4 linked regions of the Homo sapiens genome follow. The protein of the gene in region 3 purifies or fractionates together with the protein of the main gene of each other region. This does not show direct contact. Each region holds a gene or a part of one and is shown on either strand. Other genes may lie near its edges. The genes, in order: MCCC1, MCCC2, ECH1 and EIF2B3.

Region 1 (7,022 bases), on a different chromosome or scaffold from region 3:
CATCAGATAAGGCACTTAATAAATTACAGCTCTGCAGTGACCCACTTCCACCTGAAACCCCTGAAACACTGCATGGGCAGTGGGTAATCGTCCCTCTCTGACATAGTTTTGAAAACTGTTTTTCTTATTTAAAAGTAATACATTCTCGCTGCAGAAAAATTGCAAAGCAAAAAAAAAAGTACAAAGAATTGGGGAAAAAGAGGTTTTTTTGGGCATATTTCTAACATTCTGGCATATTTCATTTCAGCTGTTTTGCTATGTTTATTTTATGACATATTTTTAGAATATTTACAAAATTTTTAAAAAGTGTAAAGAAGAAAAGCAAATACCATCAACTCTACTACCCAGAGCCAATCAATTCTATTATATTGGCATATTTCCCTCCAATGTTTAGCCTAGGCATTTAAAAAATGTAACTGACTGATCATGGCCAGGCTGGAATCCTCTTTTTCAGATTAATGTGATACATTTCTATGACTCACATTTCTCTTTTAATGAAACATTACTTACTGTTTTTACCATCTTTAAGAGTCATGTTTCTGGTATACGAGATATTCAGTCTTCTTCCACTGCTAGACGAAAATGGAGAGAATTGATCTAGAAAAAATTTAAAATTCAGTAACAAACTTATGAGTATCAAGCCTATGAAATTTACACCTTACAAAAGAAAACATAAAATGCAAGTGCTGGCCGGGCACAGTGGCTCATGCCTGTAATCCCAGCACTTTGGGAGGCCAAGGCGGGCGGATCATGAGGTCAGGAGATCGAGACCATCCTAGCTAACACGGTGAAACCCCGTCTCTACTAAAAATACAAAAAAATTAGCTGGGCATGGTGACGGGCGCCTCTAGTCCCAGCTACTCTGGAGGCTGAGGCAGGAGAATGGCGTGAATCCGGGAGGTGGAGCTTGCAGTGAGCCAAGATTGCGCCACTGCACCGGATCCAGCCTGGGCGACAGAGCAAGACTCCGTCTCAAAAAAAAAAAAAAACAAAAAAACACACGTCCTAAACTGGCAGCTCAGATGTGCTTTTTTTGTTCTTCTTGTTAAGTTTAAAGGGCTGGTTTTGTTTACATCTTATGAAATTTCATGTGAAAAATTCTAGCTTCTATTGAAGAATCTGAATATTTGCAATCTAAACTCTAATCCCATAGTGGCATAAACTGTACCACAGTCACCACCTTTTGATGGGGCAAATTCATTCCAGGTCACCAGTCTCTACTATTCACTATTTTTCTTTCACCTGGCCTCTTTTACTCTTTTATGTTTTTATGTTGTTGGCCCAGCCCTTATAGGCCTTTTTTTTTTTTCTTTTTTGAGACGAGTCTCGTTCTGTCGCCCAGGATGGAGTGCAGTGGCATGATCTTGGCTCACTGCAACCTCCACCTCCTGGGTTCAAGTGATTCTCCTGCCTCAGCCTCCAGAGTAGCTGGGATTACAGGTGGGTGCCACCACAGCTGGCTAACTTTTCTATTTTTAGTGGAGATGGGGTTTCACCATGTTGGCCAGGCTGGTCTCAAACTCCTGACCTTAAGTGATCCACCCGCCCTGGGCCTCTCAAAGTGTTGGGATTACAGGCATGAGCCACCGCGCCTGGCCCCTTATAGGCATTTGGGTGTATATCCTCTATTGGACAATATCCAGGAGCTTCAGCATAGCTAAGCTGATGCAATTTATTCTGAACCTCATATCTGTACCAATTATAAACTTTCAAAAGGAAGGTCACAGTAAGACAACGTTCCATTCTAAAAACGTTAAGGTCAGGCTCAGGAATACCACATGGGACGTATTTAGATGCATTTTCATTCAATGTAAAAGGATAAAATGAGGATAGAGCACAAATCTTCTAAAGATGCAGTTTTCGGGACTTAAAACATTTTACATTTTAAGCTTTCCATACAGCTATCTTGAATGAATCTAAATGAATTCAGAAATTAAAGATTCTAATGATAGGATCCTATAATAATACGGGTTCAGTATCACTTACCCAAAATGCTTGGGACCAGAAGTGTTTTGAATTTCAGATTTTTTTTTTTTTTTTTGGATTTTGGATTATTTGCATTATATTTAACTGGCTTAGCATCCCTGATCCAAGTATCTGGAATCTGAACTGTTCCAATGAGCATTTCCTTTGAGCATCATGTTAGTGCTGAAAAAGCTTCCGATTCTGGAGCATTTTGGATTTGGGGATTTGGGATGCTCAAACTGTATAGGGTAATATAATAATTACCAATAAAAGAGAAAAATAGATCAGATTTTTAAAAATTCTGTTTGCTCCGAAAGTCAGAGCTAGCCTGAAATGCAAAAAGTATGTGAGAGCTGAGATTTTGTATCAATTTAAAGGGCAGAACTTTTTTTTTTTAATACTTTAAGTTCTAGGGTACATGTGCACAAGGTGCAGGTTTGTTACATATGTATACATGTGTCATGTTGGTGTGCTGCACCTATTAACTCGTCATTTACATTAGGTATATCTCCTAATGCTATCCCTCCCCCCTCCCCCCACCCCACGACAGGCCCCGGTGTGTGATGTTCCCCACCCTGTGTCCAAGTGATCTCATTGTTCAATTCCCACCTATGAGTGAGAACATGCGGTGTTTGGTTTAAAGGCAGAACTTTCTAATGGAGAACTGACTGAAACTGTAAGCTACCTGATGAGGTAATGAACTTCCAGTTTCCCAAGGTGTTAGGAAGAAGTTGGGCAACAGCTTAGTGGGTGTGCTGGGGTAGGGATGCAATGCATATGTGTGGTAGCCAGGATGAACCCCACTATGGCCCTTCCTATGCTTGGATTCTATGACACTATGAAGTCTCTAGGTAGACATTCAATCACAGGATGGAAAAAGCGGAAGTAATTCGACAATAAGTCATGGGTAACCCTGGGGAATCTAAGTCTCCAGTCTTAGATTGTCTTGAGACTCTGGGACAAAGGGAGTTGCTGCAGGTACAGAGGACAAAACAAAGTAGGGCTATGAGGAGTGGCGAACAAAAGAAGTGATAAGAAATTAGTGTAGGATGTGGGGAGAACAAGTGTTTGACTGAAAAGAGATCCATTTCCTTTTTTTTTTTTTTTTTTTTTAGATGAACTCTCGCCCTGTTGTCCAGGCTGGAGTGCAGTGGCGCGATCTCGGTTCACTGCAACCTCCGCCTCCCGGGTTCAAGCGATTCTCTTGTCTCAGCCTCCCGAGTAGCTGGGACTACAGGTGCGTGCCACCACACCCAGCTTATTTTTTGTATTTTTAGTAGAGACAGGGTTTCACCATGTTAGCCAGGATGGTCTTGATCTCCTGACATCATGATCCGCCCACCCTGGCCTTCTAAAGTGCTGGGATCACAGGCACGTGCCACCACGCCCAGCTAATTTTTTGTATTTTTAGTAGAGATGGGGTTTCACCGTGTTAGCCAGGATGGTCTTGATCTCCTGACCTCATGATCCAGCCGCCCTGGCCTCCCAAAGTGCTGGGATTACAGACGTGAGCCACCGCGCCTGGCCAAAGAGATCCATTTCTACAATGTTAGGTGATTAGTTACACTCCAGTTAATGGGTTAAATAGTGTTTATGGGTGCATCCATGGTAAGTGAAGAGCTTTCCTTCATACTAAAAAACACATCTGAAAAGAATGGTGTCAGTCACTGAGAGGAGAAAAGAGAGGTCAGTGTGCCATACAGAAAGAAAAGCATGTTCAATGATGATTTGCAAAACTTGACAAGCAGAGGAAAGAGAAAAGCCTTCCATACCATGTGCCTGAAGAGTGAAAGTGTCGGTCATGGCTTTCTCCTTGAGGATGAGACCCAGGGCTGCCTGGCATAAAGACTCTTTGGCTGCAGCCTTCCGACTGAGCAACAACTGTTTGTGGTGTTGAGGGATGAAATCAGTGTGCACGTTCCCAGCTTCAAACTCTGGGTGGCCAGACAGGTTGAGTAAGAAGTCAATGTTGGTGTGCAGTCCAACAATCTAGGAAGAGAATAAACCCCCAGTTCCTGCTGAGTGGGGAAAACAATATGTTCAGAAAACCATCTGCTCTTTTTATCTAAGTATTTTCTACTGTGAACAACTCTTAGGAAAAATAAAAAACCTACTAAGGTACCATGTGGCAACAGGACAATTCTCAGGAAAAAAAACACAAAAAAACCATCTCACTATCACTATGTCCATCCGCTATTACTATATCCATCTGGACTTGACACTAAAAATTACATTTTAATATGACAAAGAGGATGCTGGAAATACCGAGGCACTTACTTGACTCAGGTTAGGAACATAATAAATGTTAAGAAACATAAATGAAATTCATTTGCAAGGTATCGAAGACTTGCTGCTCAGAACACTTCCACAGAATAGGAAGACTGCAAACAGCAAGCTGGATTGCTATACTGGGGAGAGGATAGGATTAAATGCCCTCAAAAGAGCTTCTTTCCAACAATAAAATCCAAATTTTATATACCGATACAAAAATTTTAAAAGGTATAAAATTAACCCAAATACACCAATAAATGGGATCAAAAGTAAAACCAGCTATCTGAGCTTTGGGTTCATTCATTCACTCATCCATTCCTTCATTCATTTAACAGCCATTTCCTGAGCATCTCTTAAGTGCCAGGCTCTGATCCAGGCACTGGGGACATAGTGAGGAACAAAACATATGATGTCCCTGCCTTCACAGTCTCTGCTTACATTCTAGGGCAACAAGTAACAATATCTGTAAACAGGTATTGAATATAATGTTACATGCTATGAAGAAAATGAAGGCTGGCTAAGAGGATAAAGAATAACAAAAGGTCATACTTTAAATGGGGCAGCCTGGGAAAGGGCTCAGAGCAGGAGAGCAGGGTAGTCAGGAGGGAGCCCTGCAATCATGTGGGGGAAGAACATTCTGGAAGATTGGACAGGAATGCATGGCTCCATGCTGAGTGAGTCTCAGAAGCGGTGAGGCGGCCAGTGTGGTTGGAGCCACAGAGACCAGAGCTTTGATCAATTATTAACAATAACAAGTTGAATAACTGGGTTAATAAATCCTTCTATGAGCCAAATCAATGTGGTATGGGACTTTCTGCACCAAGGAAATTAATGTTCTACAGAAAAATAACAAACTCTATTAAAGGGATGAAACTGAACATAATTATTTTACTTTAGAGAAAAACTACTGGACTGCAGGCATACTGGGTAGCGAAAACAACATTCAGGAAAACATCTGCTTTTATTTCCTAAGTATTTTCTACTGTGGACAGCTCTTAGGAAAAATAAAAAACCTACGAAGGTACCATGTATAGCTGGCCTTATCTACAGAGTGAATAGGATTTCACCGAAGCATAGCACTGACACTAACAATTTTACTTCTGCAATCTTTCTTTTGTAACTGAAATGAAGAAGTCCTCAAACCCTGTTCTGGCCCACGCAAAATTCTCCCATGTGAAACTATTTTGTTTGGGCAATTGATGGAAATAGAAAATATGCTGACGAGACCAAGGCCCTGCCAAAGACAAAGGCTGACCTCTGGTGCTGACCAAACACATCAAGGTCACTGGCACGGTCTCAGATCACTCACATTGTACTGACGAAGGCTGTACCTCAGTTTTGTCAATGCCGCCTGGCGATCTGCTGCCCACACGACCAGCTTCGCAATCATGGGGTCATAATGCACGGAAACTTCGTCTCCTGAAATTGAAAACCACGGTAACCTCTTCAAGTCAAAACACGAAGGAATAAAATACAACGAGCAAGACATTTTGTTATGTACATTTCACGCTTAATCCTCATAAACCCCTGCATGATAAATAACAACACAAATTTATTCATGAGGACCCTGAGGTTCAGAGGGCTTTGAAAACTCACCAGGTGTAACGAGGTGGGCCACCCAACAGCACCAGGCCCTAACGTGGTGATTCAATGGCACACAAGCTGGCTTTCCCTGTCCTATCTTCTTCTGAATCTTCTTTTCCCTTCTCATTTTCAAAGTCAACACAATCTCCCTCCACCCTCTCACATTCCCCTCATTTCTGCCCTTAGCATTCCCCTCCCCTCCACTCTTTCAGTTTCCGTACTAGTCAAGCAAGTTTAATAATTCCTCTGTCCTGCAGGGTTGCTGGGAGGAGTGACAATAAAGTGACAAGTGCCATACCTGGCAAAACTGATAAACCAATGGCAGCTATCATCACTGGGATGGTTACAGTCCTAGAGAACAAGAATCTGAACCAGGGCACATTCCACTGGTTAGAAATGGTTCAAGTAGAAAGGATGTGGTGTGTTGAAAAGAACGTTGTTGCAGGGTCTTTCCAGGATTTTGGCAGGTCACTTGACCTCTTTGAACCCCAGAGTCCTCGTTGATAAGATTAGAGGTGCCTACAGGTGGCTCACGCCTGTACTCCCAAGACTTTGGGAGGCCGAGGTGGGCAGATCACAAAGTCAGGAGTTCAAGACCAGCCTGGCCAACATAGTGAAACCCTGTCTCTACTAAAAATACAAAAAATTAGCCGGGCGTGGTGGCGGGTGCCTGTAATTCCAGCTACTCAGGAGGCTGAGGAAGGAGAATCATTTGAACCTGGGAAGTGGAGGTTGCAGTGAGCCAAAATCGTGCCATTGCACTCCAGCCTGGGCAACAAGAGTGAAACTCCATCTCAGAAAAAAAAAAAAAAAAAAAAAAAAAAAAAGGAAGGAACCGGTGGGGCAAGCAGAGTTAAGATGCTTTGCTAAGTTAAAAAGTCTACTAACTACCAAATCTTGCTGTGGCTTATCCAGAGCTCTCAAAATGCTGCCAATTTATTTTTAAGAAGATCTAAATCCTCATTTTGGCTTTTAGGACACTAGGATTTGCCTTCAACCCATGTCTCCAGTCATATATTTTCTTACTATTCTTCAAACATACCTTTTTCTCTTTTCTTCACTCTTCATTATGCTGTTTAAATCTACCTATCTAAATCCATTCCAGACATCCTCTTAAAAACTTGTCCTGGCCAGGCACGGTGGCTCACCCCTGTAATCCCAGCACCTTGAAAGGCCAAGGTGGGCAGATCACTTGAGGCCAG
Region 2 (7,022 bases), on a different chromosome or scaffold from region 3:
GGCTCATGTATTGGACAGCACACATGTAGACCACTTCATCAGAGCAGGAAGTTCTACTGGACATGCTCTTTCTGGAGGCCCTTTAAGAGTTAGCACTTTTCTTCATGCATGTTAAATATTCTGAGGAGATTATCCATATTTTCTTTCCCCCAAGTAGCTGGGCCTACAGGCATGTGCCACCATGCCTGGTTAATTTTTGTATTTTTGTAAGACGTAGTTTCACCCAGACCATGTTGCCCAGACTGGCCTCAAACTCCTGAGCTCAAGCAATCTGCCCGCCTTGTTCTCCCAAAGTGCTGATACTACAGACATGAGCCACGAGCCACCACACCTTGCTGATTATCCATATTTTCTAAGTGAAGCTATTTCTGAGTTATGTACCTGATCAGCATTCACATGGCCACCCTTTACTCCTGTGTGTGCACAGCCACACACCCAGAAAGCAGCAGGAGCATGATCTGATCACTGCAGAGAGCATCATGCTTTTCCTAGGACCCTTTTCCTCCTCAAGATTTCAGGCACGTGCTACGGTCTTCCCTTTTATTGTACAGTTAATTCAACTTAAGTAACATCATTTTAAAATGTATGTGTATACCCTGAACCAAAGTCTGGGGATTTGAGTTTTGGCCCCAAAGAATGGTATGACCAAAGTGAGATATGTCACCTCTCTGGACTTTACTCCAGAGATGACCTTAACATGGTGGATAAATTGATTTTTAAGGTCTGTTACGGTTGAAGAGTGAATTCTCTGATTCTCTGGTATCCTTCATTATATGTTGCAGAGTGTCTGAGATATACAGGGCACTCAGATATGTTGGTTAGCAGAAAACAGCCTCCCCCATCCCAGGCTACCTCAGCTTCAAAGGAAGGAGAGGCTCTTAGTACTTGTTGGGATCATGCAAGCCTCTTTGAGAAGGAAGAGTCAGGCTCTTGGCAGTCAACAGGGCTTGAAATAGTACTGGTGCTAAAGCATCTTCATCCTGTGAGCTACTTAGGTTCATGATATTTGGTTAGATGAATGTTGAGAGAAGTTATATCCAAATGGCAGCCTAAGAGGGTCCTGCATGGTAACTTATGTAAAAGGGCAGATAGAAAGGATTCTGAAGCCTAACTATACCAGAGTTCTTGTTTTTAATAATGATTCCTGGATTGTTAACCACCAGGCAGTTAAAACTCTGTGGTTTGAAGATATCTACATTTTTGTTTTGTTTTGTTTTGGCCCTGTTGGGTTGAGTTTAGTTTTTCAGCATTGCATTTGAGGTTCCTGTGGGATATTCACCTGGAGGCATATAGTGGGCAGGTGAATAAGTCTCAGCACAGGAGAGGTGTTTTAGGTAGAGATGCAAATGTAGACATCATCAGAATATGGAGGTAATTTTAAAGCTGTGGGAATAGATAAGAACCCCCCTGAGAGAAGAGAAGAAGGTTCAGTGACAGTCTTCGAGTACCTCTGATTTTTTCCTTTTTCTTCAAGAGTAAAGGAAGATGGGGAGCATGATTATGCAGTTTTCTTAAGATTGGAAGAAGAAGGATTTGAGAAAGCGAAGTGAGATGCCTCACTCTTCTTTTTGAAGGCAGGATCCCCTCCAGAGAATAGAGGGATGGTGGGTCGGGTTGGGTGGGGTGAGAACTTGAAGACAGCTGATATTTGAAGTAGGTATGGTGGGAATGTTACAATGGAGTCAAGGCTGGGGAGATTGAGGAGTTTCTGAGCTTTTCTGAGGGTCCAGCTGAGTAGGATAGCTGCAGGAAGCAGATGGTGCCAAGTAAAGGGCTGTGCTGCCATTCCTGTGGTGACTGCAGAAGGCACACGTGCTCTGGAGGAACTGGTTGGGTTGAATTGGATGACCAGATACTGGAGTTTGGCAAACCAGGGATAGTGGCAGTCAATGAGGCAGGTGAGTCTGCAGGCCCACAGATGGAAGAAATGCCTTTGCTGGAGACTTGCGGGGTAAGGAGACAAGCGAAGCCCAACTCAGTGTTATAAGGCAGAGAAAGAGGAACCCAAGTTCTGGAAGGCAGTGAAGTTGCAGAGCAGCCTCCACAGAGCTAGGGGCTTGAAGAAATAGAAGGATCCTCTATTGAAATGGAAAAATAGTTTTTTTTTAACCTTGCTATTGAGTCACTGGCAGGGACTGTTAGCATCTCTATGAAACATTCATCTTTATGTCTTCAAAGTTTCAAAGCATCACTTTAGAAAGAACAGTCTGTTTTAAAACCAGGTCAGTGAAAGCTAAAGCCCTCATAGTTAGGCTCATCACAGCACTTTGTCCTTAACTAGCCATGTCACATTCTTTTCAGCATCAAGCTGCTTCTTTGACATCATCTCCTTTTTAAAATTTTTATTTATTTATTTTTAAATAGAGGTAGGGTCTCGCTTTGTTGCCCAGGCTGGTCTCAAACACCTGGCCTCAACTGATCCTCCCGCTTAGGCTTCCCAAATTGTTGGTATTATGGGGGTGAGTCACTGCACCCAGCCAAGATCATCTCTTGAAGATAGATTGCATCCTCATATTGTTTGAAGGTTTCTGTGTGCATCCAGATGAACTGCTTTAAGAAAATTTAGAAAGTGATTAGAGAAAATTTTATTTTATCCTTTTAAAGCAAACTTTTTAACGGTATGTTTCACATATAAACATTTTCTTAAGGCGAGAGGCATTTAGTAAGATGAGTTTAGTAAAACAAGATGTCCTTTTGGTGGAATTGCGTTCCGCATATTAATCCCATCACCCAGAGGCTCTCTTTCTGATCTTTCTCTCAGGATTTATGGTTGGTAGAGAGTATGAAGCTGAAGGAATTGCCAAGGATGGTGCCAAGATGGTGGCCGCTGTGGCCTGTGCCCAAGTGCCTAAGATAACCCTCATCATTGGGGGCTCCTATGGAGCCGGAAACTATGGGATGTGTGGCAGAGCATATAGGTAGGTGTCATGATTTTCTCTGAAACAAAGAAACATGCTTCAAGTATAAAATACATGGTCAGTTTATTTCAGGTGTATTTGAAATATAGAATGCCATTCCCAGATCTCAATCAATTATACCGTAATTTGTATCATTTGGAGGGGTGAAATGAAATTTAATGCCAAAGGTGTTATTTGGAAGAAATCTACAATGGGAGTCAAGAAATACTTGAAATGGCTGATAATGAAAATGCCACACATTAAGATTTGTGCAGTGCAGCTAAAGTCTGGCTCTGAGAAAGGTATGTAGCCTTAAAGGCATATACGGGAAAAGAAGCAAGACTGCAAGTCAGTGAGCTAAGCCTTCATCTGTGGGAAGTTCAAAGAACAGCACGTTAAACCCGTGACAAATAGAAAGGACATAATGAAGAGCAGACATCAGATAGAAGAATCAGTATAGCCCAAAGTTGTTTGGTTTGAAAGTTCAACAAACTTGATAATCTTATGCTTAAACTAAAAAATAAAGAGAGACAGCACATATAACCACTATCAGGAATGGAAAAAAGGACATGACTGTAGATCATGAGAGGATATTATGAACGCTTTTATACCCAGAATTACATGGAGAACTTAGAAGTCCCATCTGTGCTCAGGACCCTCCTCTGGAGTCTAGTCTGGGGTGTGTTCCAGGCATTTGTATATTTGTGAAAGCTCTACAGATGATTGTAATGTGCAGCCAGAATCAGGAACCACTAATTTAAAAGGCAAACATGGGCCTCTGAAAATCTATGTTGTATATTGACTTAATTTGTTTATTCTTCCTTTTCTTCCCCCAGCCCAAGATTTCTCTACATTTGGCCAAATGCTCGTATCTCAGTGATGGGAGGAGAGCAGGCAGCCAATGTGTTGGCCACGATAACAAAGGACCAAAGAGCCCGGGAAGGAAAGCAGGTCGGTGTCGTTTTCTCTTGTTTCTCTCTGGTTTTGCCTCTCACCATAAACACCCTGGAGCCAAGGAGCAGCGTGCCTGGAAGCCCTTGGTGTTCATGGCTGGGGACCTGGCGCACACTGCCTGGCCATATTTAGACTGTGCTGCCCTGGAAGTTGTTCCAGCAAATCACATGATTTCTGTCCTTTATCTTTTTAAAGCCATTTCATTTGGGGTACTTTCTTTGTGGCCATTTAAAATTGTTTCAGAATTTCCAAGAAAACACTTTTTTATTTTATTTTTATTTATTTTTAAAATTTTTGAGACAGAGTCTCGCTCTGTCACCCAGGCTGGAGTGGAGTGCCGCAATCTCGGTTCACTGCAGCCTCCACCTCCTGGGTTCAAGCAATTCTCATGCCTCAGCTTCCTGAGAAGCTGGGATTACAGGTGTGTGCCACCACGCCAGGCTAATTTTTGTATTTTTATTTATTTATTTATTTATTTTTGAGACAGAGTCTCGCTTTGTCGCCCAGGCTGGTGTGCAGTGGCACGATCTCGGCTCACTGCAAGCTCCGCCTCCCAGGTTCACGCCATTCTTCTGCCTCAGCCTCCCGAGTAGCTGGGACTACAGGTGCCCATTACCATGCCTGGCTAATTTTTTTGTATTTTTAGTAGAGATGGGGTTTCACTGTGTTAGCCAGGATGGTCTCGATCTCCTGCCCTTGTGATCCACTCGCCTTGGCCTCCCAAAGTGCTGGGATTATAGGCTTGAGCCACCGCGCCCGGCCTAATTTTTGTATTTTTAGTAGAGACAGGGTTTCACTATGTTGGCCAGGCTGCTCTCAAACTCCTGACCTCAAGTGATCTGCCCACCTCCCAAAGTGCTGGGATTACAGGTGTGTGCCACCATGCCCAGCCAAGAAAACACTTTAGAAACTGACAGTAAGTATCTGAGGCATAAAGATGTTTGATTCTTAGTCATTTGTACTTAGTGAGATTTAAATAAGTCTGATGTACTACTTTGATTTTATGACCAAAAGCAGCAGAATTTTGTTCTTTCTATTTTACTTTTAGATTGTTGTTAAGGATACCCTGAGTGGGAGGGCTCCGTCATCTATTGAGAATTGAATAACATTATCCTGTGTATAAATGAAGAAAAATGGAAAGGGCAGTGGAAACTTGATGAAAGGCAGATCAGCAAGCGGCTGCTTTTAAAATGAATTCTTTTGTTTGTGTCTCTGTTGGAGATTGTTTGAAATTTTGCATTAATTTTTATTAGTTACAACTTTTAACTCCTGTGTAAGCACCAAGTATGAAGATGATGGTTGTGTGTTCCTGAAGTTGCTTAGGTACACTGTTGTCTCATTATGGGAAGGGATGGAATGGAGGGAGCCCTGTCTGCTCTGTGCAGGAATCATCAGGTCTTCCACCTAGATTGTGGAGTGAGGTACTGCCTCCCTGAATGCATCCATCCATGCCTCACATCCCTAGTTGTCTTTTCCAAGCACTCGGAACTCTGGAGACTTACATTGAGGTTTCAGATTCACTTTAGTACCTACTAGTATCAAAGGAAACAGATAGCTTTGCTTTTGTGCGAGTGGTTGGGGTGTGGGTGTGTGGGTGGGGGAGGTGAGATATGAAATTCTACCTGATACTTCAAAGACATGTCTGAAACTCTATGAAGCCTAGCATGGTGATCTCTTATTAAGTAGTTGTTCTTTGATTACTTCAATATACAGATACTTGAATTCATTCATTTTTATACAGGAAAGGAAAGCACAGTGTGTTAATGGTTCTCCCTCAGAATTCGTGACCTAGAAAATGATATTAAGGTATTAGCATATTTACGTAAAAGAAGGTAGAGTTTATTTGAAATAAGTCTTTGTTTCTGCTGTCGAGTTGCTTTTTGAGTTGAAAGTATTTTTCAGGGTTTCAAATTAAGTTCTGAAGATTTTTACATCTGAATTAATTATCACTTGATCCTTGTAATACTGATGGGAAGGCTGTGAAATTCTTAATTAGGGGAAAATATCTCTCAGTTCTCTGGGAACTTGACTGAAAAGGTTATTCAAGATTTGGTTGGTATTTTACCCCTTTAAGCTTAAACATTTAAGCTTAAGTTTTAAATTTTGGCTATTTTAAATGAGAATCTCATACTTTTCCACATTCTTAACTGGAGGTTGCTAAGTGTAATGCAGCCCTTTTGTTGGGTTGTATAATTCACATCTATTATTGTACCTTGCTGTGATACACAGTACCCTGGGCTTTCACCTTACGTGAAATAGCCTCAGGATATTGTCTCTGTTAGGAGAGATGGGATGGGGCACTAACTTGATACTCATGTCTTAGCGTGTATGTTAATGATCACTTGTAATTTATACATCACTATGCACATGTTAGATGTAACATTATTATTCATGACATCTGTTGTTTCTTTTGAATTGAGATGATCTAAACAGGGCCAGTTGTTCACTGAAGCTGACTTACTCATGGCCTCTTTTCCTTTAGTTCTCCAGTGCTGATGAAGCGGCTTTAAAAGAGCCCATCATTAAGAAGTTTGAAGAGGAAGGAAACCCTTACTATTCCAGCGCAAGGTGGGGGCCAGAACATCACTAACTCTCTGATGGGTGCAGATGGCAGTCAGAGGAACAGCTTTACAGAGCTCTGTGTAGTTGAGATGGTCCAGCATTCATAGGAACTGGAAAATAACATTTGGACACACTTAATTTTGTACTGTTGTTTCTTTACAATCTGAATGGCTACTGCTGAAATGCCACCCCTCCTCCCAGCATCCCTGCACTGTGGACTCACCACCAGTGGTCTGATTCTCGCTTCCCTTGTCTTCCCCCTAGTTGAGGTGTCTGGGGCCTGGAGGGGTCCTGCAGCCCAAGGTGGGCCATGTTAGGAGCCGAGAATAAGTTATAAGCTTGGCTGTGTTACTTCAGAAGTTCTAATTTTTGCTTAAAAACCCCTCTCCTTGATCATTTTGTTTTTACCCCATTTTAAACATGAGATTGGTTGAACACTTACTGGCATTTGTTGACAAGTATGCTTGTACGTTTGAAAGGTGATTAGTCACTGCCAGGGTCTGTGTGTCGGCGCCAAATAATTACCTCACAGACCATTGCCGCTGTTGGCTCGGTTTTTTTCTTACACCACTTAATGAGGTAATAAATTATCATGCCTGTCCCAGCTGA
Region 3 (7,590 bases):
CTGGCTAATATTCTTTTTTTTTATTTTTAGTAGAGATGGGGTTTCACCATGTTAGCCAGGATGGTCTCGATCTCCTGACCTCGTGATCCGCCTGCCTCGACCTCCCAAAGTGCTGGGATTACAGGCGTGAGCCACCACACCTGGCCAGAAGACAAGGATTTTAAATCAGTCATTATAACTATGCTCAATGGCAGGAAGAAAAACATGCATGACAAAAAATATACAACTGACCAGGCACAGTGGCTCACGCCTGTAATCCCAGCACTTTGGGAGGCCGAGGGGGGCCGATCACTGGAGGCCAGGAGTTCAAGACCCGCCTGGCCAAAATGGTGAGACCCCGTCTCTACTAAAAATATAAAAATTAGCCAGGCGTGGTGCCGGGTGCCTGTAATCACAAGTACTCAGGAGGCTCAGGCAGGAGAATGGCTTGAATCTGGGAGGTGGAGGTTGCAGTGAGCCCAGACTGCACCACTGTACTCCAGCCTGGTCAACAGAGTGAGACTCCTTCTCCAAAAAAAAAAAAAAAAAAAAAAAAAATTAGCTAGGCCTGGTGGCGGGCATCTGTAATCCCAGCTATGCAGGAGGCTGAGGCAGGAGAATTGCTTCAACCCAGGAGGCAGATGTTGCAATGAGCCAAAATTGCATCACTATACTCCAGCCTGGGTGACAAAGCGAGACTCTGTCTCAAAATAAATGAATAAATAAAATAAAATAAAATATGAACCAAATGGAAATTGGAGAATTGAAAACTACAATATCTGGGCTGGGCGTGGTAGCTCACGCCTGTAATCTCAGCACTTTTGGAGGCCGAGGCGGGCAGATCACGAGGTCAGGAGATCGAGACCATCCTGGCTAACACGGTGAAACCCCGTTTCTACTAAAAACACAAAAACTTAGCTGGGTGTGGTGGCAGGCACTGGTGGTCCCAGTACTCGGGAGGCTGAGGCAGAAGAATGGCCTGAACCCGGGAGGCAGAGCTTGCAGCGAGCCGAGATCGCACCACTGCACTCCAGCCTGGGTGACAGAGCGACTCTGTCTCAGAAAAAAAAAAAAAAGAAAGAAAACTACAATATCTGAAATTTAAAATCAGTGGGTAGTAGCTGGGCACGGTGGCTCACGCCTATCATCCTAGCACTTTGGGAGGCCCTAGGTGGGTGGATGACCTGAGGTCAGGAGTTTAAGACCAGCCTGGCCAACATGGTAAAACTCCGTCTCTACTAGAAACACAAAAAATTAGCCGGGCGTGGTGGCGGGCACTTGTAACCCCAGCTACTTGGGTGGCTGTGGCAGGAGAATCACTTGAACCCAGGAAGCAGAGGTTGCAGTGAGTTGAGATTGCACCATTGCAACAAAAGCAAAACTCCGTCTGAAACAAAATAAAACAAAATAAATCACTGGATGGGCTTTACAGAAGGATAGAGATGACTAAACAGTTAGTAACTGTGACCAGTGGAAATTCTCCAATCTGAAGAAAAGGTCAGTGGGTCAATCCAAAGATCCAACTGACCTGTAACTGGAAATCAATTAGTGAGTTGAATAGTTGCACGAAAGCATGTTATTATATTATATGCTGACACAGCTATAGGCTGAGAGGTTAAGCATGTTGTTCATGGCCACAGATCCAGGATGGAAACCTAGACTTCAGAGCCTATGATCCCATCGTGTTCTGTCAGACTAATACTTATATTTGAATGTTTTAAAGTAGGCCTTTTTTTAAAAAAATGATAGGGCTGGCCATGGTGGCACCTGCCTGTAATCCCAGCATTTTGGCAGGCTGAGGTGGGAGAATCGCTTGACCTCAGGTATTTGAGGTTACAGTGATTTATGATTAGGCAACTGTACTCCAGCCTGGGTGACAGAGAAAGATATTGTCTCCAAAAAAAAAAAAAAAAACACACAGATAAAAGTGTGAGTTAGGGGCCAGGAGCAATGGTTCAGGCCTATAATCCCAGCACTTTGGGAGGCTGAGGCAGGCAGATCATAACGTCAGGAGATGGAGACCATCCTGGCCAATATGGTGAAACCCCGTCTCTACTAAAAATACAAAAATTAGCTGGGTGTGGTGGCCCACGCCTGTAGTCCCAGACAGAAGAATTGCTTGAACCCGGGAGGTGGAGGTTGCAGTGAGCTGAGATTGCGCTACTGCACTCCAGCGTGGCAACAGAGCAAGACCCCGTCTCAAAAAAAAAAAAAAAAAGTGTGTAAGTCAGAAGCTGCTTAAAACCCTAATTCAGAAGCACTGCTCCACTGTCTATTGCCAGGAGCTAGGAAGGCTGGCAGGGTGTGTGAAGAGCGTCTGGTACCTGCAGTGAACATTTTTCCTGCACCAGAGATCACCACCGCCCGACAGTCAGCGTCTCTCGAAATCTTGTTGAAGCACTCTACCATCTCTCTGTGAAGCAACGAGTGAAGGGTTACAAATGGGGCGGGAATACCCTGCCCTCATGTCCATCTTCCCACAACGTTCCACTTTCACCCAGTCCCGCAGCCCCGCCTCCCCCCGCAGGCAGGCCTCCAGGATCTGCAGGTCAGACCTCCAGAAGACCTTGTTCATGGCATTCCTCTTGTTGGGCCGGTTGAGCTGGACATGCAGAACATGTTTCTGCGCAGACGTCACACGAAGGGACTCATAGCTGTGGTCTGGGGCTTCACCGAGGGCTACTCCGGAAGCCTCCTCTTGTGCAGAGGAGCCAGTGAGGCGAAGGCTAATACTGAGTCCCGGGTAGTTGGAGCCTGTCAGTCCTGGGGAGAAAGGAACAGCCTTTGATGACCCCAGACTGCAAGACACAGGCCTATCGAATTAGGGAGTCCTTCAAAAGGGAGCACACGCACCCCTGAATTTAGGGGACTCGGGCCCTTCGTGACCCCGGATAGCCCTCCCCGTCCTACATCTGCTATAACAGCACGACAGCGCGACGCACCCCCATAAGGCAAGAGGTGACTCACGCCGGGTCAGTAGGTCGCGGAGTCTGCGAGAAGCCACTATCCCCGCCGCCATCGCCGCCGCCTTCGTCTACTGCGTTCGGACGGAGTAACGTGCCCGTTAGCGGAGGGGGCGGGCACAGAAGGCCGCCATGTTGAGCGAGGGCACCGATGCCGCAACCTGACAGGCAATGACGCCGTTCTTTCCGCCATCTTTACTAAGGGCAGTCGATTTCCGGTTGCCTTACATAGAGCCAGGCTCAGAAATGGACCCTTTGCCCCAGTGGGAACCTGGCCAAAGAAAATAGCTCCTGCAATGGCGTGAACCTGGGAGGCGGAGTTTGCAGTGAGCCGAGATCGCGCCATTGCTCTCCAGCCTGGCGACCGAGCGACACTCCGTCTTAAAAAAAACAAAACAAACAAACAAAAAAAAAAACAGAAAAGCAAACAGCTCCCGCTAAAGTTCATCACACAGCTGTTTCATAATGGTGGAATAATAGGCGACAGCTGAAATGTCCAAGGACATAATTGCAGCAGAGCTTGTAATCATGCATGTATATATCATGTTAACTAAAAATAAAAGAAAACTTGCAGTACTGTGAGTTTACTCAGGTAAAGGAATGAGTACAGACGGGCCAACATTAAGCGCTGACTGTATAATATGAACTCCCACCAGGAGGTCGTACTATTTCCTACTATATGCAGAGGAAACTGGCCCAGGCACGGGAAGACACTAGGTTCAAGGTCGGTGGGCTTCAGAAGGGCTAAAGCAGGATTACCTGGCACCAGAGTTCATGTTCTTAGCCTGGCGCAGTGGCTCACGCCTGTAATACAAGCACTTTGGGAGGCCGAGGCAGGCGGATCACCTGAGGTCAGGAGTTCAACAGCAGCCTGGTCAACATGGCGAAACCCCGTCTCTACTAAAAATACAAAAATTAGCCGGGTGCGGTGTCCGGCACCTGTAATCCTAGCGGGAAGAGAATGGCTTGAGCCCAGGAGGCGGAGGTTGCAATGAGCAGAGATGGCACCACTGTACCCCAGCCTGGGCGACAGAGCAAGATCTCAAAAAAAAAAAAAAGAAGAAAAAAAAGTTCATGTTCTTAAAAAAAACAAACAAAACAAAAAAACCGAAATTCCCTTGGGAAAAGCCAGCTACCAAAAGGCATAAAAAGTACTGTAAAACTGCTGGCCGGGCGCGGTGGCTCACGCCTGTAATCCCAGCACTTTGGGAGGCCGTGGCGGGCAGATCACGAGGTCAGGAGATCGACCTCCTGACCTAGCTAACACAGTGAAACCCCGTCCCTACTAAAAAAATACAAAAACTTAGCGGGCATGGTGGCGGGCGTCTGTAGCCCCAGCTACTGGGGAGGCTGAGGCTGGAGAATGGCGTGAACCCCGGAGGCGGAGCTCGCAGGGAGCCGAGATGGCGCCACTGCACTCCAGCCTGGGGACAGAGCGAAACTCCATCTCAAAAAAATAAAAAAAAAAAGTACTGTAAAACTGCTTAAGTATGCTTTTTGGGGAGACATTGAGCAAGGCGGTGAACAGATGTCTCTGGGCCAGTGAGATTGAAGGAAGTATCTTTCCTTAATGAACCTGTCTCCTGTGTGTTTTCACAGACTAGAAAAGCAGGCTCTTTTGAAAGACAGAACCATTAACTACCCATCAACAGTAGACTGTTTATACCATAGAAAACTCTGAAACCTCTATGCAAAAATAAAAATGTGTGAGAAAAAAATGTGAAGATGTAATAGAACATTTAGTATGATCCTTTGTTCCTTTGGTGTAAGAAAGTATAGCTGGGCTGGGTGCGGTGGCTCAGGTCTGTAATCCCAGCACTTTAGGAGGCCCAGGCAGGCAGATCACCTCAGGTCAGGAGTTTGAGACCAGCATGGCCAACATGGTGAAACCCAATCTCTATTAAAAATATAAAAATTAGCCAGGCGTGTTGGCTCATGCCTCTAATCCCAGCACTTTGGGAGGCCAAGGCGGGTGGATCACAAGGTGAGAAGATCGAGACCATCCTGGCTAACACGGTGAAACCCCATCTCTACTAAAAATACCAAAAATTAGCCGGGCGTGGTGGCGGGCGCCTGTAGTCCCAGCTATTCGGGAGGCTGAGGCAGGAGAATGGCGTGAACCCAGGAGGCGGAGCTTGCACTGATGTGAGATCACGCCACTGCACTCCAGCCTGGGCCACAGAGCAAGACTCTGTCTAAAAAAAAAAAAAAATTAGCGGGGCGTGGTGGCAGGTGCCTGTAATCCCAGCTACTTGGGAGGCTGAGGCAGGAGAATTGCTTCAACCCAGGAGGCAGAGTTTGCAGTGAGCTGACCTCATGCCACTGCACTCCAGCACTTCAGCCTGGGTGACAGAGTGAGACAATGTCTCAAAAAAAAGAGTGTAGCTGGACCTGCACAGAATATGGTGTATGTATGTAATATCTCTGGAAGGAGACTCAAACTGGTAACAGGAAATGAAATTGGATGCTAGGAGACAAACTGGTAAAATTCACTTTTTATCACCTTGACTGGCTTAAAAACAATAAACCCTAGTTGATTTTATTTATGGCTGCAAGATGACTGTAGTTTTTCCTTGTCTAAAGATTGTTTGAAACTTCCCATAGTGAAGCAAAACTTGTTCATCTGCCAAATGATGCTTTTGTGATGTCATTAAATGTTAAAAATGTAAGGCCGGGCGCAGTGGCTCATGCCTGTATCATAGCTACTTTGGGAGGCCGAGGCCAGTGGATCTCAGGAGTTCGAGACCAGCCTAGCCAATATGGTGAAACCCCATCTCTACTAAAAATACAAAAATCAGCCAGGCATGGTGGCACATGCCTGTAATCCCAGCTACTTGGGAGGCTGAGGCAGGAGAATTGCTTGAACCAGGAGGCAGAGGTTGCAGTGAGCCAAGATTATGCCATTGCACTCCAGCCTGGGTGACAGAGCAAGACTCCATCTCAAAAAAGAAAATTTTATTCACAGTAAATTCCCCAGAGTGGGCTATTCTCAAGCACACATGCATAAACTTCAAGGTTTGTGACCTGCTCCTCTGCAGGTCACCTCTTCCCTCCAGTAGGAGTCAAAATCCTTAAACCAGGATCCTTCCGGGTGGTACCCGCCACCGCAAGGCATCTTCACAGATTTGCATCTGCAAGTGGGAAGCTATCTACCGTATGATGCAATTATATAGATCCTTTAAGTTTTGAGACATGGTCTCGCCCTTTCGCCCAGGATGGAGTATAGTGGTGCCATCACAGCTCACAGCTCAAGTGATCCTCCTGCTTCAGCCCCCATGAGTAGCTGGGACTATAGGCACAGTGTGTGCCACCATGCCCACATCATTTTTCTATATATTTTTTTCTCGAGACGGAGTTTCACTCTCGTCACTCAGGCTGGAGTGCAATGGCACAATCTCGGCTCACTGCAACCTCTGCCTCCTGGGTTCCAGCGATTCTCCTGCCTCAGCCTCCTGAGTAGCTGTGACTACAGGAACGTGCCACCATGCCCGGCTAATTTTTATTTTTTTAGTAGAGACAGGGTTTCACCATGTTGGCCAGGCTGGTCTCGAACTCCTGACCGTAAGTGTTCCGCTCACCTCGGCCTCCCAAAGTGCTGGGATTACAGGCGTGAGCCACCATGCCCGGCCCACTTTCTTATTTTTTGTAGACAGGGTTTTGCCATGTTGCCCAGGTCTCAAAACTCCCGGCCTTAAGTGATCTGCCTGCCTTGGCTTCCCAAAGTGCTGGGATTACAGGCATGGGCCACTACATCCAGCTATATATATCCTTTAACCCAGCAATTCCACTGGCAGGAATTTATCTCCTGATCAGTATCAGGGAAGCTGGCCAAGATACTTGTGTAGATACGTGTTACAGCGCTGTTTGCAATAGCAAAAATAGACCTGGAAACTACCCTTTGGGACCAGGTTAAATCATGACACATCCACACAATGATACTGCAAGGGTAAAGACAAGTCACTCTGAAATGATACAGAACACAAAGGTTTTGGGTTTTTTTGACACCCTGTTGCCCAGGCTGGGGTGCAATGACCCCATCACAGTTCACTGCAGCATCACCCTCCAGGGTTGGGGTGATCCACCTCAGCCTGCTAGGTAGCTGGGACTACTGGCATGCGCCACTATGCCCGGCTGATTTTTGTATTTTTAGTAGAGACAGGGTTTCACCATGATGGCAAGGCTGGAAACCTTTTTTTTTTTGAGATAGGGTCTCATTGTCACCCAGGTTGGAGTGCAGTGATGTGATCACTGCACTGTTAACCTCCTAGGCTCAACTGACCCACCTGCCTCAGCCTCCCGAGTAGCTGGGACTACAGGTGTTCCACCAAACCCACCTTTTTGTAGTGACGTTTCACCATGCTGCCCAGGCTGGTCTTCAACTCCTGAGCTCAAAGTATGTGCCCCACCTTGGCCTCCCCAGATTGCTGGAATTATAGGTGTGATGACCCACTGGGCCTGATAGAGCTTGCTCGGGCAGGGCCCAGTAAGAATGCCACTAAGCCTGATGGATTTTCCTCAAAGACTCAATTGCTAGCACCATTCTCAGTCTGCAGCCCACCCTGCTCCTCTTGGGTCTCTGTATGCCTCCAGAGGGCCTGTGACTGTGCTCAGGCCTGCCTGTGTCTTCAGGACAGAGAGGGAGAAAAGC
Region 4 (7,535 bases), on a different chromosome or scaffold from region 3:
TGAGCTGGACGTGGTGGCTCACGCCTGTAATCCCAGCACTTTGGGAGGCCCAGGCGGGCGGATCACCTGAGGTCAGGAGTTCAAGAGCAGCCTGGCCAACTTGGTGAAACTCTGTCTCTACTAAAAAAAAATTTTTTTTTTTGAAACAGAGTTCTTGTTCCCCAGGTTGAGTGCAATGGCATGATCTTGGCTCACTGCAACCTCTGCCTCCCAGGTTCAAGCGATTCTCCTGCCTCAGCCTCCCAAGTTGCTGGGATTACAGGCATCCGCCACCATACTTGGCTAATTCTTTGGATTTTTAGTAGAGACAGGGTTTCACCATGTTGGCCAGGCTGGTCTTGAACTCCTAACCTTAGGTGATCCACCTGCCTTGGCCTCCTAAAGTGCTGGGATTTCAGGCATGAGCCACTGCGCCCGGCCTCTACCAAAAACATTTTTAAAAGTAGCCAGGCATGGTGTCAGGCACCCGTAATCCCAGCTACTCAGGTGGCTGAGGCAGGAGAATCACAGGAACCCGGGAGGCAGCAGCTGCAGTGAGCTGAGAGCACACCACTCGCACTTCAGCCTGGGCGACAGAGTGAGACTCCGTCTCAAAAAAAATAAAATAAAATAAAAAAGAGCCAAAAGAGCGCCAGGCACAGTGGCTCATGCTCCCAGCACTTTGGGAGGCCAAGATGAGAGGATCACTTGAGCCTAGGAATTCTAGAACAGCCTGGGCAACATGGTGAGACCCCATCTCTATAAAAAATTAGCCAGGTATGGTGGCGCATGCCTGTAGTCCCAGATACTCGGGAGGCTGAGGTGGGAGAATCACCTGAGCCTGGGAGGTTAAGGCTGCACACCACTGCACTCCAGCCTGGGCAACAGAGTGAGACCCTGTCCCAAAAAAAAAAAGTCAAAAGATGAGTTTGAGTCATGATTCTGACACTCATAGGTGTGATCAGGGGCCTGACATTTAAAACTCTCAGTGTCCTCAGCTTCTAGAAGGAAGCCTGGTGGTTAGGTTCACAGACCATAGAGCTAGAATGCCTAGGTTTGAATTCTAGCTCTACTATTTATTATTAGCTGTGTGAACTAGGGCAAACTACGTAAATTTTCTATGCCTCAATTTTTGCATTTTATGATGGGGATAATTATAGTTTCACTTCACAGAGTTGTTGTTAAGATTAAATTTGTTATTCTACGTAAAGCAGACAAAATAATGTCCATCTTTTTTTTTTTTTTTTTTTTGAGACGGAGTCTCGCTCTGTCGCCCAGGCCGGACTGCGGACTGCAGTGGCGCAATCTCGGCTCACTGCAAGCTCCGCTTCCCGGGTTCACGCCATTCTCCTGCCTCAGCCTCCCGAGTAGCTGGGACTACAGGCACCCGCCACCGCGCCCGGCTAATTTTTTGTATTTTTAGTAGAGACGGGGTTTCACCTTGTTAGCCAGGATGGTCTCGATCTCCTGACCTCATGATCCACCCGCCTCGGCCTCCCAAAGTGCTGGGATTACAGGCGTGAGCCACCGCGCCCGGCCAATAATGTCCATCTTATGAGAAGCACTATATTTGTATTTGCTTTACTAGACAGAGACTAGATTATGGAAAACCTTCGTACTAATTGAGCCATGCTGCTTCATAATTCTGGTCTCTGCACTGCTACTGTTGCTTCCTAGTCTGCCTTTCTCTTGTGTCTAGTAATCACCTATTAAACTTTGAAGACAGCTCAAGAATCCTCTTGCCTACAAAGCCATTCCTAACCGTTCCCACCCCTCCAGAAGTGACTCCTTTTCCCGAAGTGCTTCCATTCTGCCATGTGCAGATTCTCTTAGCCTTTACGGGTTTCATTGCACGTATGTGTTTAAATGTCTACTTAAGTGTAACATTAATGTCTCTTAAATGTCTACATAAGAGTGTAAGAGTGACTTTCTTGGACTGTGTGTGCATCATCACTGTATTCCCAGTCAGATGCCAGAAATCAAAGTGGAATGAGGACCTGTGAACTTCACAACTGTATAAGAGTCAAACTCAAACATGTGCATAAGGGCATTAGAACCCAGGTCACTAGGAACTGAGGTTCCAGCTCTCAAGGAGGCCCTGGGTGAAGAAAGGCAACCTAGGAAGCATGAATAGTAATCATGAACATAACTAATCATGCTACCAGGCAGACTGTCAAATGCTCATGTCACTGCCACGACTATGGCTGACGGGAATCATGGCAACGAGTCTCGCTGCCTCCCAAGCTTTGGAGAGGGTGTTCACCGCATCTCAGACTTGCCTGCATCATAGCACTCATGCCTTTTCCAGTTGTAAATAGATAAGAAAACTGTATCAGAATTGGTCTGTCATTCCACGTGTGCTGCCTGAAGGCAGAGACCTCACTGCTCCTCCCTATATTTCACTGCCCTGCATCCAAACAACTAAAGGCAGGCTGAACAAATGAATGAAGGGCTGAGGCTGAAAGAGTGCAGGCACAGTGCTAAAGGCGTCTGGTACCGGTCTGGTGCTCGCTCACTCGCTGTGACTTTAAGCAGAACCCTCCCCGAAACTTCGTTTCTTTCTTTTCTTTTCTTTTTTTTTTTTTTTTTGAAACGGAGAGTCTCACTATGTTGCCCAGGCTGGAGTGCAGTGGCGCGAATTAGGCTCACTGCAACCTCCACCTCCTGGGTTCAAACGATTCTCCTGCCTCAGACTCTCGAGTAGCTGAGATTAGAAACTTAGTTCCTCCATCTGTTGCATAAGGTGGTTGGCTCGGATTCTCATCCCCAACCTCCCTTCTACTTCGGACACAGCTACACCGGGTCGAGCAGGGAGTCGAGCTGACAACTTCGGGGCTCAGCACCCTCTCCTACCCCTTCGGGTCCACCTCGGCCCAGTTCGACATGCCCGCCTCCCTCAGATGAGTGGCCCCACCGCACTGCTCACCCGGGTCAGCCAGCTTGTGTGCGGCCTGGCAGGGCAGAAGTCACAGCTATAACTCAGCTCCCGGCACGCCGCAACCGCTCCCAGCGATCTCCACGCCGCCTCTGACTGACAGCCCAATGGCGCAGGCGCGCGATGGCCGAGAAACTCGATGGAACGCGCAGAGCAGACCCATGGAGAAGAGAAGACCGCCGAGCGATGGATGACGGAGGGGAAGCACACTCAGCGGAGAGGAGGGAAGGCGGGCCGGAGGGGGCGGGGCCACCGAGGAGCATTCGACACGTGTGTCCCTCTGTCCATTAACACATTACCAACGCCTTTTGAGTATTCCTCCCAGTGCAGGGTGCCGGGAACCCAGACGGAACAACTCAGCCTCTTTCCTCAGGGAGTAAGTCTAAGACCTGGCTTCGAGTACATTCGGTGAAAGAAAGCTCATTGGGAGCCGCAATTTTGGCTAGCTAGTGAAAAAAATCACCGAATGCCCCTGCAGGGGTTGCCAGGACTTCCTATTTGTTTTTGTTGTTGTTGTTGTTGTTGTTTGTTTTTTGTTTTTTTTGAGACGGAGTCTCGCTCTGCGTCGCCCAGGCTGGAGTGCAGTGGCGCGATCTCGGCTCACTGCAAGCTCGGCCTCCCGGGTTCACGCCATTTTCCTCCCTCAGCCTCCCGAGGAGCTGGGACTACAGGCGCCTGCCACCATGCCCGGCTAATTTTTTTGTATTTTTAGTAGAGACGGGGGTTTCACTGTGTTAGCCAGGATGGTCTCGATCTCCTGACCTCGTGATCCGCCCGCCTCGGCCTCCCAAAGTGCTGGGATTACAGGCGTGAGCCACCGCGCCCGGCCCGGGACTTCCTATTTGTAACAGGGCCACTCACGTTAACTTTAGCCATCAAAACTGGGGGCGGCTGGGCATGGTGGCTCATGCCTGTAATCTCCGCAATTTGGGAAGCCGAGGTGGGAGGATTGCTTGAAACCGGGCGTTCAAGACCAGCCTGTGCGAGAGAGCCTCCAGTCTCTACAAAAGTAAAAATTAGCTGGGCATGGTAGTGTGTGCCTGTAGTCCCAGCTGCTCAGGAGGCTGAAACGGGAGGATCGCTTGAGCCCAGGAGTTCGAGGCTGCAGTGAGCTATGATCGGGCCACTGCACTCCTCCTGCCTAGACGACAGAGTGAGACCCTGTTTTTTTTTTTTAATTTAGTTTTTATTTCATAATCATAAACTTAACTCAGCAATCCAGTTAGGCATGGAAAGGAACAAGGAAAACATGGAACCCAAAGGGAACTGCAGCAAGAGCACAAAGATAAGATACTGCGAGCAGGCCGGGCGTGGTGGCTCACGTCTGTAATCCTAGCACTTTGGGAGGCCGAGGCAGGCAGATTGCCTGAGCTCAGGAGTTCAAGATCAGCCTGGGCAACATGGTGAAACCCCGTCTCTACTAAAATACAAAAAAAAAAAAAAAAAGAAAGAAAGAAAGAAAGAAAAAATTAGCCAGGCATGGCGGCGTGCGCCTGTAGTCCCAGCTACTCGGGAGGCTGAGGAAAGAGAATTGCTTGAACCCGGGAAGTGGAGGTTGCAGTGAGCCGAGATCGTGCCACTGCACTTCAGCCTGGGAGAGGGCGACAGGGTGAGACAGCGTCTCAAAAAAAAAAAAAAAAAAAAATACTGCAAGCAAATGGGGTGAAGGGGTGCTCTTCTGAGCTACAAAAGGAATGGTCTGGTGGTTAAGATAAAACAAAAGCCAAACTTGTTAGAGTTGTCCACAGTCAGCAATGGTGATCTTCTTGCTGGTCTTGCCATTCTCGGACCCAAAGTGCCCCATGGCCTCCACAATATTCATGCCTTCTTTCACCTTGCCAAAGACCACAGGATTGCCATCCAGCCACTCAGTCTTGGCAGTGCAGATGAAACACTGGGAACCATTTGTGTTGGGTCCAGCATTTGCCATGGACAAGATGCCAGGATGTGTATGCTTTAGGACGAAGCTCTCGTCATCAAATTTCTCCCCGCAGGTGTACTTGCCACCAGTGCCATTATGGCATGTGAAGTCACCACCCTGACACATAAACCCTGGAATAATTCTGTGAAAGCAGGAACCTTTATAACCAAATCCTTTCTCTACATTGCTCAGAGCACGAAAGTTTTCTGCTGCCTTTGGAACCTTGTCTGCAAACGGCTCGAAGGACACGCGGCCCAAGGGCTTGCCGTCGACAGCGATGTCGAACACGGTGGGGTTAACCATGGCTGATCGTACAGAGCTCCTGGCGTCGGTGGCTGCATTTGCAAAGCCGAGACCCTGCTTTTAACAAAACAATAATAGGCCAGGTGCGGTGGCTCACGCTTGTAATCCCAGAAGTTTAGGAAGTGAGGCGGATGGATCCCTTGGGCCCAGGAGTTCGAGACTAGCCTGGGCAACGTAGTGAAACACCCTCTCTACTAAAAATACAAAAATTAGTCAGGTGTGGTGCCGCGCTGTGGGGTTCCAGCTACTTGGAAGGCTGAGGCAGGAGGATCGCTGGAGCCCAAGAGGCAGAGGTGGCAGTGAGCCAATATGGTATCACTGCACTTCAGCCTGGGTAACAAAGAGACAGGATCTCTAAGTAAATAAAATAAATATTAAAAAATGACGAATAGATAATAAAATAATTGTTGTTCTAAGCTCTACGGTTTGGAGTGGTTTATCAAGTTGCACTAGATAACAGGACCAATGGCCATTCTCTTTTTCCCATGCATTCCTGCAATTTCCTAATCTTTTGAAAGCTTCCTTTTTTTTCGATTAATTAATTTTTTTTTTTTTTTGAGACAGTCTCACTCTGTCACCAGGCTGGAGTTCAGTGGCACAATCTTGGCTCACTGCAACCTCTGCCTCCTGGGTTCAAGTGATTCCTGCGTCAGCCTCCCGAGTAGCTGGGACTACAGGCATGCGCCACCACGCCTGGCTAATTTTTGTATTTTTAGTAGACAAGGGGTTTCATCAGATAGGCCAGGATGGTCTTGAACTCCTGACCTCGTGATCTGTTCGCCTCGACCTCCCAAAGTGCTGGGACACAGCCGTGAGCCACCGTGCCCAGCCTGATTCATCTCTTAAATCTTGAGTTGCTTTAGCTTCCTGCCAGTTAAAAGGTAGAGCATGATTTCTGTAATAAAAATAAAGGAGCTTGACTTCATTCAACAATATTTATTCATTTATTTTTAGAAATGAGGTCAGCTTATGCTGCCCAGGCTGGACTCAAACTCCTGGGCTCAACGATCGTCTTGCCTCAGCTTCCCAAGTAGCTAGGACTACAGGTATGTGCCATGGAGGACTGGCTTCAACAATATCTTGAGTGCCTAATATGTGCCAAGCAGTGTCTTAGATGCTTGGTGTTGCAGATACAGCAGTTAATGATTAGGACTTGTCATTTTTTCCAGAAGGAGGTCTGCTTAGACCCTGAAAAAAAAAGGGGGGGACTCATATCCTAAAACCAGCCTATCTTTGCCTTGCCATGAACTGACTGATCTGGCCACAGGAGGCCTGAAGTCTGACTACCCCTCTATAGAAACACAGAGATATTCTCTCTTTGGTATTACCTCAACCAAGACTTGGAAATTACAGCATGGGTTTGAGGTAAGAACTAATTATAAGTAAGAAGAGCAGTCAGCCCCATATCTGCCATCCATTTCAAATCCTTATGTTTAAACTAGCAAATGTTTTTCAACGAACTAGAGGGTTTTCTCTTCTATTGTGGAAAGTAGTTGAGAGATTGCTTCAGTTTAAACTCACTTTAAATTATTCCCTGAGGGCAACAATTCTCAAACTTTTTCATCTCTAGACTCTTCATACTTAAAAATTACTGAGGACCCCAGAAAGCTTTTGTTTATATGGATTATATTTATCAATATTTACCATATCGAAAAAAAATTATTTTTTTGACACGGAGTTTTGCTCTTGTTGCCCAGGCTGGAGTGCAATGGCACGATCTCAGCTCACTGCAACCTCTGCCTCCCGGGTTCAAGCGATTCTCCTGCCTCAGCCTCCCAAGTAGCTGGAATTTACAGGCATGCGCCACCACACCCAGCTGATTTTGTATTTATAGTAGAGACGGGGTTTCTCCATGTTGGTCAGGCTAGTCTCAAACTCCTGACCTCAGGTGATCCGCCCGCCTTGACCTCCCAAAGTGCTGGGATTACAGGCATGAGCCATTGTGCCTGGCCAACTACATTTTCAAAACAAAAAGTTTAGTGAGATGAATGCCATTGTTTCACCTTTTTGAATAGTCTCTTTAGGGTCTGGCTTAATAGAAAACAGCTTGATTTTTCCATTATTGTAATATATTATTTTGGTTTAATTATATCATAAAAATGTGACTTCACATAGATACATAGTTGGTAAGAGATAGAGCTTTTAATAGCCTTTTCAGATAATTATAGGTATTCTTTGACACTATACCAAAATTCAATAAGTGGTAGTTTGTTAAAGGTTTGTTGCAATGTAGAATCGGAAATTATATCAATGAACATTTTGTACCTTGTTACAGTACTTGCACTTTGAATGGACATTTTACCCATGCATGACCTTGCAACTTGGTATACAAATAATATGTAAAATATTCGTTCACAGAGTTATGCAGATCTTCCTAACATTGACTCATTATACAAT

The links.
Region 1: the proteins of ECH1 (region 3) and MCCC1 purify together in Homo sapiens (affinity purification with mass spectrometry; 3 studies listed by BioGRID and IntAct, with this or other methods). This does not show direct contact.
Region 2: the proteins of ECH1 (region 3) and MCCC2 purify together in Homo sapiens (affinity purification with mass spectrometry; 4 studies listed by BioGRID and IntAct, with this or other methods). This does not show direct contact.
Region 4: the proteins of ECH1 (region 3) and EIF2B3 purify together in Homo sapiens (affinity purification with mass spectrometry; 3 studies listed by BioGRID and IntAct, with this or other methods). This does not show direct contact.

What each region holds. Positions count from the first base shown.
Region 1 is NC_000003.12:183,033,481-183,040,502, forward strand, and holds part of MCCC1 (methylcrotonoyl-CoA carboxylase subunit alpha, mitochondrial isoform 1 precursor), read right to left. Parts: intron 5,656-7,022; coding exon 5,546-5,655; intron 3,955-5,545; coding exon 3,738-3,954; intron 598-3,737; coding exon 511-597; intron 505-510; exon of another isoform or gene 1-504.
Region 2 is NC_000005.10:71,646,336-71,653,357, forward strand, and holds part of MCCC2 (methylcrotonoyl-CoA carboxylase beta chain, mitochondrial isoform 1 precursor), read left to right. Parts: intron 1-2,761; coding exon 2,762-2,918; intron 2,919-3,733; coding exon 3,734-3,848; intron 3,849-6,333; coding exon 6,334-6,419; intron 6,420-7,022. UniProt on the Homo sapiens protein: Carboxyltransferase subunit of the 3-methylcrotonyl-CoA carboxylase, an enzyme that catalyzes the conversion of 3-methylcrotonyl-CoA to 3-methylglutaconyl-CoA, a critical step for leucine and isovaleric acid catabolism.
Region 3 is NC_000019.10:38,828,775-38,836,364, forward strand, and holds the start of ECH1 (delta(3,5)-Delta(2,4)-dienoyl-CoA isomerase, mitochondrial precursor), read right to left. Parts: upstream 3,021-7,590; 5' UTR 2,999-3,020; coding exon 2,947-2,998; exon of another isoform or gene 2,922-2,946; intron 2,743-2,921; coding exon 2,535-2,742; intron 2,393-2,534; coding exon 2,304-2,392; intron 1-2,303. UniProt on the Homo sapiens protein: Isomerization of 3-trans,5-cis-dienoyl-CoA to 2-trans,4-trans-dienoyl-CoA.
Region 4 is NC_000001.11:44,983,588-44,991,122, forward strand, and holds the start of EIF2B3 (translation initiation factor eIF2B subunit gamma), read right to left. Parts: upstream 3,009-7,535; 5' UTR 2,906-3,008; intron 1-2,905. UniProt on the Homo sapiens protein: Acts as a component of the translation initiation factor 2B (eIF2B) complex, which catalyzes the exchange of GDP for GTP on the eukaryotic initiation factor 2 (eIF2) complex gamma subunit.